Linked DNA regions of Homo sapiens. The protein of the gene in region 2 interacts with the protein of the main gene of each other region in a biochemical or structural test. Each region holds a gene or a part of one and is shown on either strand. Other genes may lie near its edges. The genes, in order: SPINK2 and KLK4.

What was found.
Region 1: the proteins of KLK4 (region 2) and SPINK2 are reported together in a solved structure, tested with the Homo sapiens proteins (one study listed by IntAct).

Annotation. Positions count from the first base shown.
Region 1 is NC_000004.12:56,818,632-56,826,137, forward strand, and holds the start of SPINK2 (serine protease inhibitor Kazal-type 2 isoform 1 precursor), read right to left. Parts: upstream 3,071-7,506; 5' UTR 3,032-3,070; coding exon 2,827-3,031; exon of another isoform or gene 2,689-2,826; intron 1,949-2,688; coding exon 1,905-1,948; intron 1-1,904. UniProt on the Homo sapiens protein: As a strong inhibitor of acrosin, it is required for normal spermiogenesis. It probably hinders premature activation of proacrosin and other proteases, thus preventing the cascade of events leading to spermiogenesis defects.
Region 2 is NC_000019.10:50,905,718-50,908,561, forward strand, and holds the end of KLK4 (kallikrein-4 isoform 1 preproprotein), read right to left. Parts: intron 2,779-2,844; coding exon 2,642-2,778; intron 1,370-2,641; coding exon 1,217-1,369; 3' UTR 634-1,216; downstream 1-633. UniProt on the Homo sapiens protein: Has a major role in enamel formation. Required during the maturation stage of tooth development for clearance of enamel proteins and normal structural patterning of the crystalline matrix.

The DNA.
Region 1 (7,506 bases), on a different chromosome or scaffold from region 2:
AGCCTGGATGACAAAGCAAGACTCCGTCTCCAAAAAACAAAAAAAGACAGCAGGTCCTGCAGCACTTGCCTTGCCTCCTGAGCGTGAGTGCCTTCTTAAATTCTACATGTAGGAACTCACTCACTTTACCCTAATCCCAGCCTTGAAACGAAGGTACCATAACTCCCATTTTCTAAAAGAAAATCAAACCCAAGCAAACTGAATCACTGACTAAAAGTGTTATTGGGCATCTGTGAGATGCTGAAGACTGAGCAACAAATAGCAAATAAGACATTATACCTGACAACATGCATACAGTTTCCTGGAGGACGTAGGCAAACAGGCAATTACAACCTAATGTTGTGACAGGGTAGAGAAAAGCACTGGATCTGGAGTCAGACTGCCTGGATGAGAAGCATAGCTCCACCACTTCCATGTGACCTTGGCCAAGGGGATAATAATGAAATAATGATCCCTACCTCACAGTACTGTGAAAGATGAAATTAGTTATTATATATGAAGCATTTAGAACACTGGTGTGGCATGTAGGTATCTAAGTATTTATTATTATGATGGTGATGATGATGCAGTATAGGTAAGCACAGAGAAAGTGTGTGTGTATACATATCTACATCTCTAGAGGAAGGGAATCGCGTGGGAAGGCTTCCTGGAAGAAGCCTACTCTGAGCTGAATGCTCAAAGTTAACCTGCTGAAGTCAATATCCTCATATGTCAAATAATGTCTATCTTACAACATCATTGTGAGAATTGAGAGACCAAATATACAGACAATGACTAGTCCTTATATAAAACAGAACTCTGACCCACAACCTGCAGCATCCTGTCCAGGAACCCAAACCATTATTTAGAATAACCAGGCCAGGAGGCCAGCCGGCTATAAGCCAGACTTGAAGGAAATCAGACTGCTATCTCTAGTGACAGTCCAGGAAGCAAAACAATAACCCCTTTAACAATCAGCCCAAAATGGCTAGGACTTTTTTTTCTTTCTTTTTTTTTTTTTTTGAGATGAAGTCTCACTCTGTTGTCTGGGCTGGAGTGCAGTGGCATGAACTCAGCTCACTGCAACCTTTGCCTCCCAGGTTCAAGTGATTCTCCTGCCTCAGCCTTCCCAGTAGGTGGGATTACAGGCACGTGCCATGATGCCTGGCTAATTTTTTGTATTTTTAGTACAGACGGGGTTTCACCATGTTAGCCAGCATGGTCTTGATTTCCTGACCTCGTGATCTGCCCACCTCGGCCTCCCAAAGCACTGGGATTACAGGCGTGAGTCACTGCGCCCAGCTGCAAAATGGTTAGGATTTGATTACTAACTGACAGCTTCCGTAATTTCTGTCCTTGATTCCAACTTAGGACAACCAGAGAAAACCAAATACACACCCCTAACCCATACCATAGAATGTTGTGCTTCTAGTTAGCTCACCTACAGCTTCCCTGTGCCAACAGCCTCCAATCAGGCCATACCTGAAGCCATTCCTTTTTTCCACTATAGTTTTCCCACTCCTCTCTTTGACTCGAGTCCCTACTCAAATGCAAGTGACAGTGGCTGACTCTCTTGCTATAACAAGCCCTGAAAAACATAGCCTTTGCTTGTTCTCATTTGGTTGGTCTCCATTTACATCCTCAGAATTTAATTTGATAAAGTACATAAAATATCTAGTACAAGGCATAACTTTTTCTAAGGACCTTTTGAATCTTTAAAGGAAATATTAACACAAAGACTGAGCTGTTTTCAACTAAAACTTACACTTTTATCTGAATCAAAAGGCCTGCCTGACAACCTGGTTTTAAACGCAGTCCTCAATGGTTTCAAAAGTGGCAGGTCAGACCTGAAAGCCAGCCTCCCTCCCAAACGGTTTTGGGCTTCACTGTATTAGTAGAAACAGTAGAAGTGGTTTGCTACTTACCGTTCTATATTTTGAAAACAGACCAAATTGAGGGATCAGAGAGGCTGTAAGAAGAAAGCATAGACATTTTACAGTATAGGATCAAGGTAAGGTATTGTTCATGAAGTTTTTTTTTTTTTTAAATGAAGTCTTGCTATGTTGCCCAGGCTGGTCTTGACCTCCCGGGCTTAAGCGATCTTCCTGCCTAGGCCTCCCAAAGTGCTGGAATTTGAGGCATTAGCCACCACATCCAGCTTCATAAGGATGTTTTAAAATCCAGTTTGGGATTTATCCAGGCCACATCTTCTATTTTCCCCTCTAATGCCTACCTTCTTTAAACTGTCCCCATCCCACTTCCCCCAGAAAGGATATTCAGTTTTTTATGGCACCTCTCCCCAAAAGCACATAGAAATAACATTTGGTTCTGTTCCCATTAGGGTTGGTTGAGAAAGGACTTTGAAGCTATGGAATAAAAGTCGCGCTAGCGCACTGCAGCTTCAATTCCTGGTCTCAAGCGAGCCTCCCGCCTCAACCTCCGGAGTAACTGGGACTACCGGCCCAAGCCACTACACCTGGCCAAGGAAGTAACCCTTAATTAATAGTTCATGATGTTATTTTCCTTTACAACTCGGGGTAACAAATACAAAATTTAATATAAGATGTGAGCATTTTAACTCCATTTTAAGAGAGGTGTCCAGTGTGGTTGGACTAAAGCCCCTTTCTCGTAAGCATCCACAATTCCTCATTCCTGCACATCTCCTCCCTTGGGACCATACATAAAAACTCAACTCCTCATCTTGGGCACCTGAAAATCTACTTTAACAGAGAAAGCGCTCTAGATGGCAGGTGTCCTTAGAGCTGGGAGCGAAGCCCAAGCAAGAACTAAAGAGGGTGGCTGACTCCACAAAGCCACCCCCACAACCCCCAGTTCGCGTTCCTCCACCTGGCAGGTCCTCTGGGGAACCGCCAGTAACGGGCGCGCGGGTACCGTCGCCGAGGCCGCCCGGAGCAGGGCAGGGTCCGCCGCCGGTCTGACTCCCAAACCCGCTTTTCTCCGGAGGTCCCCGCTCGCCAGGACCGCTCCGAGCGCTACCTGCGAAGGTAACTGCCAGGAGCAGCAGCGCCAAGCGCAGCACCGACAGCGCCATCCTCCTCCCGCGCCGGCTGTCTTGCCCCTGCGGTCTGTTACCTGCGCCACTCGCAGGGAGCGCTCGTGCGACGGGGCGCGGGGAGGGCGGGGGAAGGGGCGGGGCGAGAATGGGAGGAAAAGCAGCGGTAGGTGGCGAGGGAAGAGGGGCGGCGGGAAGAGGAGCGGCGGGAAGAGGAGCCGTGAAGGGTCGGGGGAGAACCGGAAAGGGCTGGGAAGGAGAAAGGTAGAAGGACGGGGGAGGGGGCCATGGGGAAGGAGGGGCGAGGGAGATAGAGGAAGGGGCAGTTGTTCCCCAACACCTTCCCCTCCCCCCAAGGAGACGAAGGGGAAGACCTCTCCCTCCGACATACAAGAACCTGTGACAGTCCTAGGGGGACCCTTGTGGAGCTCTTGGGAGCTCTGTCAATCAACACCTATTTCTTAAGCATGTACTAAGTCCCAGATAGTGTTTCGTTGCTGAAGACACAGCCCTGACCTCGACAAAGGAGGTCCTTGCTCTCAGGAAGCGTTCTGCCTTTCCCTCTTTTAATATATTTTTTAACTATTTGAGTTGACACATAATGATTGTACATATTTATGGGGGTACATAGTGATATTTGGATACATACAATGTGTAGTGATCAAAATAGGATAATTAGCATATTCATCACCTCAAACATTTATCATTACTTTGTGTTGAGAACATTCAAAATCCTCTCATCTAGCTACTTGAAAATACATAATAAATTATTATTATTATTTAAATTTCAGACAGGGTCTCGCTCTTTTACCCAGGCTGGAGTGCAGTGGCACGATCTCAGCTCACTGCAACCTCCACCTCCCAGGTTCCAGTGATCCTCCCACCTCAGCCTCCCTCCCAAGTAGCTGGGACCACAGATATATGCCACCATGCCAAGCTAATTTTTGCATTTTTTGTAGAGAGGGGTTCTCACCATGTTGCCCAGGCTACTCTCAAACTCCTGGGCTCAAGCAATCCGCCCACCTTGGCCTCCCAAAGTGCTGGGATTACAGGCTTGAGCCACCGTGCTCGACCTTTATAATATATTATTGTTAATTGTCGGCACCCTACAATGCTATGAAACACTAGCACTTATCCTTTCTACCTAGCTGTAATTTTGTATACTTTAACCAACCTCTCCCTATCCCCCTATCCTTCCCAGCCTCTAGTAACTACTGTTCTACTCATTACTTCTGTGAGAAATAATTTTTGCCAAAGAGGCTGAGCAAGTTAGTGCATTAAGGCCAGGCGTGGTGGCTCACGCCTCTAATCCCAGCACTTTGGGAGGCTGAGCCTGGTGGATCACTTGAGCTCAAGAGTTTGAGAGGAGCCTGGGCAACAGGGCAAAACCCCGTCTCTAAAAAAAGTACAAAAATTAGCCAGGTGTGGCCATTGAGCTGAGATTGAGCTACTGCGCTCCAGCCTCAGTGGCAAAATGAGACCATGTCAAAAAAATTTGGCCAGGCACGGTGGTTCATGCCCGTAATCCCAGCACTTTGCGAGGCTGAGGCAAGTAGATCACTTGAGGCCAGGAGTTTGAGACCAGCCTGGCCAACATGGCAAGACCCCATCTCTACTAAAAATACAAAAATTAGCTGTGCATGGTGGTGCGCACCTGTAGTCCCAGCTACCTGGGAGGCTGAGGCATGAGAATTGCTTAAACCCAAGAGGCAGAGGTTGCAGTGAGCCGAGATGGTGCCACTGCACTCCAGCCTGGGCGACAGAGTAAGACTCTGTCAAAAAAAAAAAAAAGTGCATTAGCAGATCCACTTTTTTTTTTTTCTGCTTCTTATGCCTGTGTGTCAAATGATTCTGTGACATGTTGCCTTATCAGTAAGGGTCCAGTCTGGAAAACACAAGGTTTACTAGGTATTTCACCAGAGATAATTTAGTATAAGGAATTGGCTAATCCAGTAGGGATAACTGAAAAAAGCAGAAAGGGAAAACGAGGTAACACAGAGATAAAGCCTTTAGGAAGTAGGCATCATGCCTCGATCTAGGGGAACAAACGGATTAGGTTGGGATTCTCAGAACTAGAAATTTGGAGGAGAGGTCCTGGAAAGCTGGGACTCAGACCCATGGGAAGGGGGTGTTGCTTGGATATGCAGGTGGCTCTAAGAGTGTGTGGAAAAGCTGAAGACTGGAGCCAGGTGCAGTGGCTCACACCTGTAATCCCAGCACTTTGGGAGGTTGAGGTGGGTGGGTCACTTGAGGTCGGGAGTTCGAGACCAGCCTGGCCAACATGGTGAAACCTTGTCTCTACTAAAAAATATAAAACTTAGCTGGACATGGTGCCATACTCCTGTAATCCCAGGTTCATGAGAATCTCTTGAACCTAGGAGGTGGAGGTTGTGGTGAGCGAAGCACACCACTGCACTCCAGCCTGGGCAACAGAGTGAAACTCTGTCTCAAAAAAAAAAAAAAAAATGCTGGAGACTGGAGCCAGCTGATTCTATCAGAGTGATGAAGAGTCATTGCTGTGGCACTGCTGAAAGAAACAGCCAGCAGGCAGGAGCCAGTCCCTTCTCCCTCCTCCTGCCTTCCGGTGTCCCCCTGACAGACCCTATGGGCATAACCTTCTGGAAGCCAGCTGAAAAAGCAGAAATGAGGTCTGCTGAGACCTGGCACCACATAGCAGAGTGTAGAAGGGGGTTGTAGAGCTGATGGAGAATCATCTTATGACTGGCATGTTCCCATGCCCACCCTTGACCTTAGCAACCTCAAAGGCTGGAACAAGAAGACACTGTGCAGTTTTTAACTCCACTTGGCACCACACATGGCTGAGTTCTGGCTGGAATCCTGTCTGAGGCCAAGGGGTAAATTTGAAATGAGTGTTAGTACTTCTCTAAGTCACATCACATTCAGTTCTTTGAATAACAGTCATGAAATGGTCATGGGTCATTTTGCTGAAGATTCTTATCAAGGATTGATAAAATATAATTTATATATAAAGCTTTTCTCAACTGTGCTGGATGTCTGTTACCAAATGACATGTGCACTTGCTTACAAACACCTTTGATGCTCTGGGAACACAAATCTGACCCAGACTCAGGGGCAATGCTCAGAGGTGTGTGAGTAGGAATTTCAGCTTCAAAAGAAAAGCCATTTACCCCTCAAGATAGATTTTTTATAAATTTATGTGTGTGGATACAGCTGCCTTTAGGTTATTTTGTTTCAAAGAGTTGACACTGACTGGCAGGGTGGCTCATGCCTGTAATCCCAGCACTTTGGGAGGCAGAGGCGGGCAGATTGTTTGAGCCCAGGAGTTGGAGACCAACCTGGGCAACATGACAAAACCCTGTCTCTAAAAAAATACAAAAATTAGCCTGGTGTGGTGGCGCGCACCTGTAGTCCCAGCTACTTAGGAGGCTGAGGTGGGAGGATCACCTGAGCCTGGGAGGTGGAGGCTGCAGTGAGCCATGATCACACCACTGCATTTCAGCCTGGGTGACAGAGCGAGACTCCGTCTCAAAAAAAAAAAAAAAATGTTGATAATTATACCTTAGAAATATTTTCTATCATGGTGCTTTTCACATGTTGTCTCAGCATTTGTGAGCCAAGAACAAGGGTCAAAAAACATTTTCTGTAAAGGGCCAGATAGTAAATACCATTGACTTCTTGTCACAACTAAACTCTGCCATTGCAGTGCAAAAGGAGACATAGACTATAACTCAATGAATGGGCATAACTGTATTCTTTTTTTTTTTTTTTTTGAGAGAAGATCTTGCTGTGTCACCCAGGCTGGAGTACAGTGGCGCAATCTCAGCTCACTGCAGCCTCAACCTCCTGGGCTCAAGCGATCCTCCCACCTCAGCCCCACAAGTAGCTAGGAATACAAGCATCCGCCACCACACCCAGCTAATATTCTTGTATTTTTTGTAGAGGTAGGTGATATGGTTTGGCTGTGTCCCCACTTAAATCTCAACTTGAATTCTATCTCCCGGATTTCCCAAGTGTTGCGGGAGGGACCCAGGGGGATAATTGAATCATGGGGGCCAGTCTTTCCCATGCCATTCTCATGATAGTGAATAAGTCCAGGAGATCTGATGGGTTTATCAGGAGTTTCCATTTTTGCTTCCTCCTCATTTTTTCTCTTGCTCCTGCCATGTAAGAAGGGCCTTTCACCTCCCACCATGATTGTGAGGCCTCCCCAGCCATGTGGAACTGTAAGTCCAATTAAACCCTTTTTTCTTCCCAGTCTCATGTATGTCTTTATCAGCAGCATGAAAATGGACTAATACAGTAAATTGGTACCAGGAGAGTGGGGCGTTGCTGAAAAGATACCAAAAATGTGGAAGTGAATTTGGAACTGGGTAACAGGCAGAAGTTGGAACAGTTTGGAGGGCTCAGAAGAAGACAGGAAAATGTGGGAAAGTTTGGAACTTCCTAGAGACTTGCTGAATGGCTTTGCCCAAAATGCTGATAGTGATAAGGAGAATAAGGTCCAGGCTGAGGTGGTCTAAGATGGAGATGAG
Region 2 (2,844 bases):
ATAACCAAGACTTGATGCTGTTATTCTTTTCAATTTTAGCCATTCTGGTAGCTGTATGTCTTTTGAAATGATTCTATATTTTTCAGATACTGGGTGCAACATTCCATATATGACCATTAAATAGAGTATGTTAATCATACTGTTCAAATTATCTATATACTTATTCAGTCTCCCATCTCCTTGCCCCTCAGTTGCCCCATTGTGCCCCTCAAACTTCCCTCTTTCTACTCCTTGGTCTCTGTTGCTGTCACTCACAGTAGCCCTCGCCACAATTCTCCCCACTAGACTCTAGCTGCAGCAGCCAACTTCTGAGACACATGCAAATTAAAAATTCTTGAAATGCAGTTAAGAAGACAAAAATGAATATAGATCAACTAAAGCTGAATAGTTAAACTAAGCAAGAAAATCTCTACGGTTACCATTTGCTGACCTGACTTTTCAGAAACTGGACAACATCCATGGCACTGGTTTCTCTTAACTATCCAGGGAATGGCCCCTCCCTCTGAAACTCTGTGGCCCTCCTGGTCAAAGCTCGCATTTCCCAGATAGGGAAATGCGACCCATGGAGGGAAAGCCATTTGCTGGAATCTCTTGAATGGAAGGGGAAGCAAGGAGGACACTACAAACAGAACCTGCGCTTCTCTTAGACTTTATTTCTGGATCTAGGGGAAAGGGACAAAAAATGAAAAACCAACTGGTAAGGTTGGGTCAACGTGCCACAAGGGGGCACTGTGTACAGGGAGAGTCTAGGTGGCATTGGACCGCTGGGTCTGAGGGAGGAGGGGCTGGGACCTGGACCTCTGGGTCTGGGGAAGGAGGGGTTGGGGGCCTGGACCTCTGAGTCTGAGGGAGGAGGGGTTGGGGGCCTGGACCCCTGGGTCTGAGGGAGGAGGGGCTGGGGGGTCTGGACTCCTGGGTCTGAGGGAGGAGGGGCTGGACTCCTGGGTCTGAGGGAGGAGGGGCTGGGGGGTCTGGACTCCTGGGTCTGAGGGAGGAGGGGCTGGACTCCTGGGTCTGAGGGAGGAGGGGCTGGGGGGTCTGGACTCCTGGGTCTGAGGGAGGAGGGGCTGGGGATCTGTACCCTTGGTTTGAGGGAGGAGGGGCTGGGGGCCTGGACTCCTGGGCCTGAGGGAGGAGGGGCTGGGAACAGATATTCCTGAATTCCTTCCGCAGGATGTATTTGGGGGTCAATTTCATGGGTTCCCAGTCCCCAGAGTTAACTGGCCTGGACGGTTTTCTCTATCCACTCAGTGAATTTGCAGAGGTTGGTGTAGACACCTGGCACGCCAACTTGGCCACACGGGGCTTTTCCGAAAGACACAAGGCCCTGCAAGTACCCGTTGCAGATCAGGGGCCCCCCAGAGTCACCCTGTTGTGAAGAGAGGGAGAGTCAGAATTCAAAACACAGAGAGGTGGAAATGGATGTGGGCTCAGAAAGGAACTAAATGAGACTGAGAAACAAAGACAGAACCATCATCAATAACAACATAGCCCAGCAACATATCTGTTGGAAGTCCCATTCCAGATCCCTGACTTCATCTAATCCTGCTTCCCGATGTCCTATGTCCTGAATGCTGGCTGCTTCTCTTGGGCTTGTGGTCTGTCTGTTTCTGTTTGTCTGTCTCTCCTTTGTCTCCTTTGTGGCTTGTTTATCTGTCTCAGTGTCTCTGCATCTCTTTGTAAAGTCTTTTTTTTTTTTTTTTTTTTGAGACAGAGTCTTACTCTGTTGCCCCAGCTGGAGTATAGTGGTGTGATCTCAACTCACTTCAACCTCTGCCTCCCATATTCAAGCAATTCTTCTGCCTCAGCCTCCCAAGTAGCTGGGATTACAGGCGCCTGCCACCATATCCAGCTAACTTTTGTATTTTTAGTACAGACAGGATTTCACCATTTTGGCCAGGCTGGTCTTGAACTCCTTACCTCAAGTGATCTGCCTGCCTCGCCTCCCAAAGTGCTGGGATTACAGGCATGAGCCACCCTGCCCAGCCTCTTTGTAGAGTCTTGATTTTTCCTGTTTCTCTTCGTGTTTCACCTCTATGAATCTGTGTCACTGTTTCCCTCTGGGTACACAGTTGACCCTTGAACAACCCTGGTTTGAACTGCACAAGTCCACTTATACTTGGATTTTTTCAATAAACACATTAGAAAAATTTTAGGAGAGTTGCAACAATTTAAAAAAATTCACAGACGAACTGTGTAGCTTAGAAATATCAAAAAATTCCAACAAAGGTATATCATGAATGCATAAAACGTATGCATAAATCGACTATTTATGTTATTGGTAAGGCTCCCCGTCAACAGTAGGCTATTTCTAGTCAGGTTTTTGGGGAGTCAAAAGTTATAAGAGGATTTTCTGTTGGGTGGAGGTCACCGCCCTCAGGCCCCATGCTGTTGGAAGGTCAACTGCATTTCTATGTGTGTGTGTTTCTGCCTCCCCATGTCTGTTTCTGTTTCTCTCTTCCTTTGCTTCTCTTTATTCCTGTGTTTATTTCTCTGTTTCTCTCAGTTTCTCTCTCTAGTTGTCACTGTCTCCCTGTGTGTCTCTCCATCTCTGCATCTCGCCATGCGGCCCTGTGTGTCTCTGTCTCCCCCTTCTCCACCCTTCCCTGAGTCGCCTGCCCTCCCCTTTCCCCTCTCTCACGTTGCAGGAGTCCTTCTGGTCTTGCCCTCCGCCGGCGCAGAACATGCTGGGGTGGTACAGCGGGTCATAGAGCTTACTGCAGACCTCCTCAGACACCACCGACACGTTCACGCACTGCAGCACGGTAGGCATTCTGCCTGGGACGCAGAGCTCTGGGTCAGCCCCCGCGACTGGGCAGAGGACCTCCTTGAAGAGGGCAGACA